2 linked regions of the Homo sapiens genome follow. The gene in region 2 interacts genetically with the main gene of each other region. Each region holds a gene or a part of one and is shown on either strand. Other genes may lie near its edges.

Region 1 (5,888 bases), on a different chromosome or scaffold from region 2:
ATCTCGGAATGTTCCATTCCAGATCCCTCCACCATGGGCTCATTGTGAAATAAACAATGCATGGCCACTAAAGCAGTTCTTTGAAAATGCAGCGTCAACACACCCACATTGACAGCAATGCAAAGTCACTGAAATTTTCTAGAATGACATGAGAAAAAATCCTTATAGATAGTCTTTTCCAATGCAAACTTCTCTTTTAAACACTTTTATTAGAAAAGTTTGCTAGTAAGGCAGGAAAGTAACTTTTAGATTTTTATGAATGAGGGTTTGCTTTTTGGAACCCTTTCAAATTTTGATAGCCTTAAAAAACTACTCTTATTTAACAAAGAGAAACAGCCAGCGGTAATCTGGAGCTTGGAGTTGATATGAGAATGGCTATTTCATCACCAGGTAATTCCTCCAGGTCACTGAATGGCTATTTCATCACCAGGTAATTCCTCCAGGCCACAAGTGAGGCCCATGGAGTAATACAGCCTGTGATTCCCTCCGTCACCCTTCACATTGATTGAAAATGTATCTTCAAAGACAGACTCAGAAGCTCTTTTGATGCTTTATTGACAATTTAAGTACAATCTTAGAGTTGTCAGATAATCTCAACACACTTCAGAGAAAAACAGACTTTTTCTGCAAAGACTTTATTTCTATTTTTTGATACATTCATATTTTGTTACACCCTTCCTGTGCAAATAATACTGTGATTCATGTTCATGTGTAGTGGATGATCTTGCTTTTTTGTTTTTGTTTTTTTTTTTTTTTTGAGACAGAGTCTCACTCTGTTGCCCAGGCTGGAGTTCAGTGGCGTGATCTCGGCTCACTGCAACCTCTGCCCCCCGGGTTCAAGTGATTCTCCTGCCTCAGCCTCCCAGGAAGCTGGGATTACAGGTGCCTGCCACCACGCCCAGCTAATTTTTGTATTTTTAATAGAGACGGGGTTTCATCATCTTGGCCAGGCTGGTCTTGAACTCCTGACCTCGTGATCCACCCACCTCGGCCTCCCAAAGTGCTGGGATTACAGGCATGAGCCACCGCGCCCGGCCTGCTCTAACTTATTTTAAGAATCACTGTTCTATTCTGGAAAGGGAAAAGACCACCACCAAGAAGGGAAAGGAGACCATGCTGGACAGCCTAATAGTCTAACAGGGGATCCTAGGGTGCCTGAGCTCATGGGAGCAAACCTTGTTCAGGCACCGCAAGCCCAACGCAGCATGCAGATTGGGAAGGCGCAATAATGCAAACACCATCAGGAAGAAAGCTATGGATGATGGAAAACACTGTGTGCTCCACGTGACAGAAGGGAGCCACCTGATTTGTCGCATCGGGCCAGTGTAAGGAAGTGTAATTTAGTGGGACTGCCAGTGACACTAAGTCAGGCCTTGATCAGGGTCTGGACTCAGTATGGACACGAGCCACTGGGTGCAGGGGGCTCATGCCTGCCACCTCTCTTTTTTTCCCTTACTATAGAGACTTTGATCTGTCCACCATTTCTATGTGAGCTTTGGGCTTCCTGTCACAGGTCTGTTGTCACCGTGGGGCCATGTTGGAGTCGGTAGATTTTCAGACAGTGAAGCCACATGAAGCTGTGAATGCTGATGTGGCTGCTGCAGAGCCCAGTCTCTCCCCGGTGCAGGGCCTCTGAGACGACGGGACTGTCCTCAGATGGTTGGAAGAAATGGGTTATCTTAGGCAGTTAGGAAAAGAGGGACAGGTGTCCCAGGATGTGGAAAACTTGAGTTCATCCCCTCTCTTCCCTCCAGCAAGGATTTCAGTGCTACATCTAAAAAGAGAAGCCCTGTTGCCGATTTAATAATTTACAGTCTCTAAATCCAAAAGGGCCTCCATGTGCTAGTGAGACTCATGCCCTCAGTTATGTTCACGATCTTCCTGAGAAGTCAGACAATACAGGTAGAACAAAAGATAGTGGTTGTACTTTCTCTTCTGCGTAGTGTGGGTAAGAGCATGCGGTTTGCCGCATGCAGTGTTGTTAATCTTTTGATTGTGTTGTGAATGGCTGAAAAAAAAGCTGAAAGTTTGATTGAACTGAAATCCAATCCATGTCAACATAAGGAATATTCTAGTGAGTTTACTGTCCTAAGAGAAGGTCTCTCCTGGGGAACCCCTGGTATGCAGAGCTCCCTGGGACTTGCAGATTGGACAGAGAGGGTGTGCCAAAGGGGTATAAACCCTTCTGATGGAGAGAGTCGGGCGTGTCTTCATTTTGGTAGTTCTGGAAAGGCTCCTCTTTAAAGATTCTGATTTAATAATGTTCACTTTTGTTAAGATTGAATATCATTTTGAAATCATTTCTAAACGTGTTTCCTTTATAGGCACTTTATCTATTAAATTTACAGTGGAGCCAAATGTATTAGCAAAATCTCCAAGTTGCAAAATGAATACTCAGAATCAAACTATAGATTTTTTGGTGATACTTTCAGAAAAACAATTTCTTTCTAAAGTTGCAAATCATGAAAGGGAATGAAAGTACATTAACTTGATTTCTTCCCTGTAATTCAAACATTCAACATTCAAATTAACTTTCATAATTTCTCACTTTGTGACAAGTTGATTTACGCATAGTTGGTATTTCATTAATGCGATTTATATAGATGGAATTCTTAAGGATAAACAAATGTTTTTGACTATTGCCTGGGGTTCTTTGGGAATAGATGCTTTCTGAAAATTTAAATAAGAACATTACTGTTAAAGCCATGAATCTAGTTTGGAGAACCCACTGCAGTTCATTTTACAGAGAAACACCTTGTCAATGGCATCTTCATGGTGTTTACTGAAGGTAAAAGGCAGGATATTAAATGTGAGAACTCTCTCTCCAGCTACTGATTCTGCCTGTCTCGAATTCAGGTGAGAATGACCCATACAGATACATGGATTGCACTTGAATCTGTGCTCTGGTATTTGTGTCATCCGGAGGCTGAGAACGCCTGTTGGTGGTGTCGCAGATGGCTCTGCTGTCTTGTGTGGACAAACTGAAAGGGATTCAGGAGCTTCTTCTGTAATTTTACTCTGCTGTTTTTCATGGACATAGTGAAAGGGATCCAGGAGTTTCTTCTGCAATTTGGCTGTAGTTGGACTTTGAAAAAAACTTGAAGAGTGTGTGTGCGCGCGCGCGCGTGTGTGTGTGTGTTTGAAAAGAGAATTAGAAAATGAAGGTAGACACTGGGTATGCTCCCCCAGGATGTGGCGATGGGGCGCCCGGCCGCCCTGGCTACACGTCGAACCAGTGGTCCCCCATGCAGACGCGGTTCCACTCGCAGCCACAGTTCCAGCACCACTCGAGCCTGCACTGGGGCTGCGGACACTTCATGTGCATGCAGCCTCCTGTTGGGGGCAGAAAACAAAGGTGTGGTGGGTTCGCAGCAAGTACCTGGAAAACACGCATTCCCAAACCAGCACGCTAGCCTAGACATCACTTTCTGAGCGAATAATCACAAGCAATACAAGGGCAGAGAGAAACTTAACTGAGGGGAAAAACTTCATAAAGCACAATAGGGCAGCTCTAAAGTGATGATATTCATTAAGAAATGAATGAAATTGAAGCATGTCACTTTTGTCGGGAACAAATTTTATTTGTAAATCTGACTTTATTCTCCTGAAAGGGGATTTAGAGACAAACACTTCATGTTTCATAGATAGGGGTCAATTCCTCATTTAAATATATTCAAATATTAATATATTTATATTTAAAATATATAAATATATTTTTATATATTTATATTTAAAATATATATATTTTTATATATTTATATTTAAAATATATATATTTTTATATATTTATATTTAAAATATATATATTTTTATATATTTATATTTAAAATATATATATTTTTATATATTTATATTTAAAATATATATATTTTTATATATTTATATTTAAAATATATATATTTTTATATATTTATATTTAAAATATATATATTTTTATATATTTATATTTAAAATATATATATTTTTATATATTTATATTTAAAATATATATATTTTTATATATTTATATTTAAAATATATATAAATATATTTTATATATTTATATTTAAAATATATATAAATATATTTTATATATTTATATTTAAAATATATATAAATATATTTTATATATTTATATTTAAAATATATATAAATATATTTTATATATTTATATTTAAAATATATATAAATATATTTTATATATTTATATTTAAAATATATATAAATATATTTTTATATATTTATATTTAAAATATATATAAATATATTTTTATATATTTATATTTAAAATATATATAAATATATTTATATTTAAATATATTGATAAAATTTGATGATATAACCTAATATAATGTATAATAATTTAAATATATTTTGATTTATTTTTGCTCTTTCTATAGTGCCACTTACTTGGCTTGGCCAAATTCATAAAACAGGAACTGGGATAGCATATTGTAATTATTATTATTTCTATTTTTTTTTTTGAGATGGAGTTTTGCTCTTGTCGTCCAGGCTGGAGTGCAGTGGCGAGATCTTGGCTCACTGCAACCCCCACCTCCCAGGTTCAAGTGATTCTCTGGCCTCAGCCTCCCGAGTAGCTGGGATTACAGGCGCCCACCAACATGCCCAGCTAATTTTTGAATTTTTCGTAGAGACAGGGTTTTGCCATGTTGGCCAGGCTGGTCTCAAACTCCTGACCTCAAGTCATCCTCCCGCCTCGGCCTCCCAAAGTGCTGGGATTACAGGCGTGAGCTACCGCACCCAGCCAGCATATTATTTTTAATAGGGAATATGTTCCTTAATGCTATCCAAAATTTTAATTAAGATGAGAGGGATAGAAAGGAAGTAATTAATAATGCTAGGTGTTCTATGTATATTATCTCATTTGCTTCCCAAAGCACTTTGAGATAAGAGCATCACTCTGCTATAGAATTTCCCCAAGGTGAAGCACTTTTAAATGGTGAAGACAATGATCTCACCAAGGTCTGTGTGATTCCAATGTCCTGTCATTCACAGAACAGGTTATTTTCAGCATAAGAGGAAAAGTCCCTTATCTTGGAACTTATTTTGGAATTATTCACCTCCCTCACTTGTTAAACATAGACTCCATGAGTTTCTGGAGTGCACACAGCCCTGCTTCAGTCGCTGTGGGGGAACTGAAGGGAGGAGGAAGTGATTTGTATGAGGATGTACAGAGAACTGTTTCTGTCCAAATTTCCTGGAAAACCCCGGCAAACGCAGTTTCTTTGCTTGAATCCCACCTAGCGTTGAAGGTGCTCCATTACTCACTCTTACCAATTATCTTGTTAATTGATTTTTCCTGCCAAATTTTCCAAGTAATTGGTTCGGTGCTGTCTCACTTTTATTATTAGAAACCTGGCATGAGAACTTTCACTAATTTAAAATATTTATGAATATATAGGAATAGGCATTTGTTTTAAGATAACTTGCCGACATGCAAAATCTCCTGTTTTCCTAATCCTTTCTGGCTTGTTTTAAAGATCATAAATTACAGATCTGTGGAAAATAAAGGAGAAAACTTACAACACTTTTATCTTCATACTTTCCACTTAGGTTTGTGCCATTTTCAGCACATATTGCATGGTTGTATATTTATGATGTAAATAATATGTTATATGGTGTGACATTATAAAACCACTTGTTTCTCTAAAATATCATAAATATTTTATCATATCATAAATATATCATTATTATATCATGTATCGTAAAATATATTCAATCAAAATTATTGAGCAATACATTAAAACTTAATGAACTATTAAAGCAATTCTAAATGAAAGGGTAAGAAACTTTCCTATTGTGATATTTAATATATATAAGCATATATAAACACAAATATGTATGAAGAGTGTGTGTGTGTGTGTGTGTGTGTGTGTGTATATATATAT
Region 2 (5,601 bases):
CAAGCTGAATCTTTCTAACAAGACAGTACCAAAAACCTGTCATTGTCACATTTCTCTTTCATTAGTGCTTAGTGAGAATCATTTGCTCTCTACATGCTCATTACGTGGACAACTTGCAAGTTAAGAATAGTTTTTACATTTTTAAAGGGTCCTTAAAAAAAAAGAGGAGGAGGAAGATGAAGAAGAGGAAGAAAGGATGTAAAAGAAATCATATGTAGTCCACATAGCTTAATATACTTACTACTTGACCCTTTACAGGAAAAGTTTACTAACCCCTGCATTAGAGAATATATTTTTAGAAACTTTACATTCTAAAATAAATTTCTAAATGGAAAGTTAGGGAAATCAATGGAATGCCAAAGGAAGGTTATTATTTTTTGCCATACATGTCCAATGGGATGACGCATAGTAAAATAAAAGTTACCCACACAAGTTATAGAATAAAAAGATAAATGCATGATTTGCGACAATTGATATATTCCAGTATAATGTTTTAAACAACACAATATGATTGTTAATTTTATTTTGATTGAAAATGAAAGTATCTTTAATAGAAAATGTATCAAAAGGGAAATTAGAAAATACTGTTAGATGAATAAAACTGGCCCAAGAAGAAACAGTAAATCTGAATAGATTTGTAACACAGCGAATAGATTAAATTAGTAATAAAAAAAAAAACCTACCTGCAAAGAAAATCCCAGGCCGAGATGGCATCACTGGTAAATTCTACCAAACATTTAAAGAGGAATTAATACTAATTAGTTAACACCAATTAATATCTCTTACAAAACAGAAGAGGAGACATTTCCCAACTAATTTTGTGAGACCAATATTACCCTGATAATCAAAACCAAATGAAGATATCACAAGAAAAGAAACTATATAATGGCTCCATTAAAAATTGAGTTCAAGTATGTTGTAGTTTGGTTATGTATTATTCCTCACGGCATTATTAAAAGGCATGTCGAGGATGGGCACAGCAGTTCACACCTGTAATCCCGCACTTTGTGAGCCAAAGTGGCCAGGTTACTTGAGGCCAGGAGTTGGAGACCAGTCTGGCCAACATGGTGAAACCCCATCTCTACTAAAAATACAAAAATTAGCCGGGCATGGTGGTACACGCCTATGGTTCCAGCTACTTGGGAGGCTGAGGCATGAGAGTCACTTGAACCCAGGAGGCAGAGGTTGCAGTGAGCTGAGATGGCACCCCTGCACTCCAATCTTGGTAACAGAGCAAGACTGTCTCACACAGACACACGAAAGGCATATTGATAATAATTCAACTTATAGAAATTGAGATTAAATTGTTTGTTTGCCTAATAAGAATTTCCAATATTTTGGGGTCTTTTATGCAAGACACAGTACTAAACACAATGGAAAACTATAGAGTAATTGACATTACCAGGACATAAGGAGTTTACAGTCTGGTAGGTTTGATGAAAAAAAATAGAAATTCATTCATTCATTTCTTCATTATGATTCCTTTAACAAACATAATTGATTGTCTTCGATGTACCAGGCATCACAGGAGCAAAAATATATAAGACATACTAAAAAGTAAAACATTTTAAAGATCTGTTTCAATCAATCAGGAGAAGTTTTATTGAGGAGGTAATGTTGATCTGGGTGGGAAAAGGTAAGAGATATAGTAGGTCAAAACAAACAGAGGACATTCTGGCACAAGGGAATATCAGAAGCAAAGGCATGTATGTCTGAGCATGCAAATGGATATGTCTGAGAACAGTGAATAATTATGACTCAAGCTTAGGAACAAGGAAAATGGTGATAGATTGAATTTGCAGCTATGGGTCAAAGACAAGTTATAGAGTATTAGGATAATCTTGTCATTTCAGCTTGTATTCTATTCAGAAAACAACTTGAGTTATTGAAGTTATGCTTATTTGTTTGTTTTTAAGCAGAATCCTGATATTATTAGAGTTGCTCTTTAGGAGGAATAATCTGATCCCTTTAATTAAATCCATTAATATTTGTGTTGTGGATGCTATCCAGATACTGTATGGAGAGCTTGAGGTTTGAAATACAAGTAATAATTGAAGCCATAGATGAAGACGAAATTTTCAACTGGGAGAGTGAAAGTAGGGAAAATGTATCTTGCCTTCAAACATCTTAATTTCCTTCTGAGAATTAGAGCATCTTAGTCTGGAAAAGGCTTTATAGACAGCTTGATTTTGTTCTCACATTTTACAGGTGAAGAAACTGAGAACCAGACAGTCCAACTTATTTGTCCTACCAAACTAGGTATATGATCATTAAATGGTGCATCCGGATCAGAACCTAGATATTTTAACTCTGACTACTACTGTAATTCACTTTTATATCAGACAAGAAAGACACAACTATTAAAAATAAGATAATATTTGCTGCAGAATATTTGCAAAAACATTGATTGTAAATTTTAGTGTAAGTGGGGAGCCATTTCCTATCTCATTGGCTGTCAGTGCTGATGCGTAATTGAAACTTATACTAACAGTGTGTGCTGTCTTTTTGATTTTTCTAATATTAGGAAGGGTATCAAGACTACGAACCTGAAGCCTAAGAAATATCTTTGCTCCCAGTTTCTTGAGATCTGCTGACAGATGTTCCATCCTGTACAAGTGCTCAGTTCCAATGTGCCCAGTCATGACATTTCTCAAAGTTTTTACAGTGTATCTCGAAGTCTTCCATCAGCAGTGATTGAAGTATCTGTACCTGCCCCCACTCAGCATTTCGGTGCTTCCCTTTCACTGAAGTGAATACATGGTAGCAGGGTCTTTGTGTGCTGTGGATTTTGTGGCTTCAATCTACGATGTTAAAACAAATTAAAAACACCTAAGTGACTACCACTTATTTCTAAATCCTCACTATTTTTTTGTTGCTGTTGTTCAGAAGTTGTTAGTGATTTGCTATCATATATTATAAGATTTTTAGGTGTCTTTTAATGATACTGTCTAAGAATAATGACGTATTGTGAAATTTGTTAATATATATAATACTTAAAAATATGTGAGCATGAAACTATGCACCTATAAATACTAAATATGAAATTTTACCATTTTGCGATGTGTTTTATTCACTTGTGTTTGTATATAAATGGTGAGAATTAAAATAAAACGTTATCTCATTGCAAAAATATTTTATTTTTATCCCATCTCACTTTAATAATAAAAATCATGCTTATAAGCAACATGAATTAAGAACTGACACAAAGGACAAAAATATAAAGTTATTAATAGCCATTTGAAGAAGGAGGAATTTTAGAAGAGGTAGAGAAAATGGAACATTAACCCTACACTCGGAATTCCCTGAAGCAACACTGCCAGAAGTGTGTTTTGGTATGCACTGGTTCCTTAAGTGGCTGTGATTAATTATTGAAAGTGGGGTGTTGAAGACCCCAACTACTATTGTAGAGTGGTCTATTTCTCCCTTCAATCCTGTCAATGTTTGCTTTACGTATTTTGGGGAACTGTTGTTTGATGTGTATGTGTTTATAATTGTTATACATTTTTAATTGAGCCTTTTATTAACATATATTGTTATTTTTGTCTCGAAATAATTTTTTAGTTAAAATCTATTTTGTCTGATATTGGTGTGAATGCTGTACCTTTCTGACAATAAATAATATTCGACCATGAATAAAAAAAAAAAAAAAGTGGGTTCCCGGGAACTAAGCAGTGTAGAAGATGATTTTGACTACACCCTCCTTAGAGAGCCATAAGACACATTAGCACATATTAGCACATTCAAGGCTCTGAGAGAATGTGGTTAACTTTGTTTAACTCAGCATTCCTCACTTTTTTTTTTTAATCATCAGAAATTCTCTCTCTCTCTCTCTCTTTTTCTCTCGCTCTCTTTTTTTTTTTTTTTTTACAGGAAATGCCTTTAAACATCGTTGGAACTACCAGAGTCACCTTAAAGGAGATCAATTCTCTAGACTGATAAAAATTTCATGGCCTCCTTTAAATGTTGCCAAATATATGAATTCTAGGATTTTTCCTTAGGAAAGGTTTTTCTCTTTCAGGGAAGATCTATTAACTCCCCATGGGTGCTGAAAATAAACTTGATGGTGAAAAACTCTGTATAAATTAATTTAAAAATTATTTGGTTTCTCTTTTTAATTATTCTGGGGCATAGTCATTTCTAAAAGTCACTAGTAGAAAGTATAATTTCAAGACAGAATATTCTAGACATGCTAGCAGTTTATATGTATTCATGAGTAATGTGATATATATTGGGCGCTGGTGAGGAAGGAAGGAGGAATGAGTGACTATAAGGATGGTTACCATAGAAACTTCCTTTTTTACCTAATTGAAGAGAGACTACTACAGAGTGCTAAGCTGCATGTGTCATCTTACACTAGAGAGAAATGGTAAGTTTCTTGTTTTATTTAAGTTATGTTTAAGCAAGGAAAGGATTTGTTATTGAACAGTATATTTCAGGAAGGTTAGAAAGTGGCGGTTAGGATATATTTTAAATCTACCTAAAGCAGCATATTTTAAAAATTTAAAAGTATTGGTATTAAATTAAGAAATAGAGGACAGAACTAGACTGATAGCAGTGACCTAGAACAATTTGAGATTAGGAAAGTTGTGACCATGAATTTAAGGATTTATGTGGATACAAATTCTCCTTTAAAGTGTTTCTTCCCTTAATATTTATCTGACGGTAATTTTTGAGCAGTGAATTACTTTATATATCTTAATAGTTTATTTGGGACCAAACACTTAAACAAAAAGTTCTTTAAGTCATATAAGCCTTTTCAGGAAGCTTGTCTCATATTCACTCCCGAGACATTCACCTGCCAAGTGGCCTGAGGATCAATCCAGTCCTAGGTTTATTTTGCAGACTTACATTCTCCCAAGTTATTCAGCCTCATATGACTCCACGGTCGGCTTTACCAAAACAGTTCAGAGTGCACTTTGGCACACAATTGGGAACAGAACAATCTAATGTGTGGTTTGGTATTCCAAGTGGGGTCTTTTTCAGAATCTCTGCACTAGTGTGAGATGCAAACATGTTTCCTCATCTTTCTGGCTTATCCAGTATGTAGCTATTTGTGACATAATAAATATATACATATATGAAAATATGTATTTGGTTTCTGCCTCCAGTTCTTACAAAGAGCTCCTAAAACCCTTGTAATTTCCTGAGTAGTAGGGGTGCTAGGGTCATCTTTTGTTCTAATATTTGGTCTTTGACTCTGCTTTCTGACAGAGCTCCTTAGTCCCTGGGTGAGAGTAGCATCTTCTCTTCTAATGAAGTGACTCTTGCTGGGTTCCTGGATGGGGGCTGGTCACCAGAAAGGTCAAGCCATGATAAGAAGCTTGAAGCTTTTGGCCCCATTCACATCTTCTGGGGACGGGAGAGAAGAGGAGCTGGAGATTGAGTTAATAAGCAACAATGCTTCCATGATGAAGACTCCATAAAAATCCCTAAAAGACAGGATTCAGAGTGCTTTGAAATAGGTGAACATGCAGAGGTGCTGGGAATTGTGGTGTGTCCAGAGAAGGCATGCAAGCTCCCCACGCCTCCCCCATACCTTTCCCTGTGCATCTCTTCCATCTGGCTGTTCCTGAGTTGTATCCTTTTATAACAAACTGGTAA

The links. Genes that interact genetically often act in the same process or in processes that back each other up.
Region 1: of SNCA (region 2) and PRKN, changing one suppresses a phenotype caused by changing the other (phenotypic suppression), as found in Homo sapiens cells (2 studies listed by BioGRID).

The regions. Positions count from the first base shown.
Region 1 is NC_000006.12:161,346,879-161,352,766, forward strand, and holds the end of PRKN (E3 ubiquitin-protein ligase parkin), read right to left. Parts: intron 3,334-5,888; coding exon 3,221-3,333; 3' UTR 539-3,220; downstream 1-538. UniProt on the Homo sapiens protein: Functions within a multiprotein E3 ubiquitin ligase complex, catalyzing the covalent attachment of ubiquitin moieties onto substrate proteins. Substrates include SYT11 and VDAC1.
Region 2 is NC_000004.12:89,723,584-89,729,184, reverse strand, and holds the end of SNCA (alpha-synuclein), read left to right. Parts: intron 1-2,524; coding exon 2,525-2,557; 3' UTR 2,558-5,086; downstream 5,087-5,601. UniProt on the Homo sapiens protein: Neuronal protein that plays several roles in synaptic activity such as regulation of synaptic vesicle trafficking and subsequent neurotransmitter release.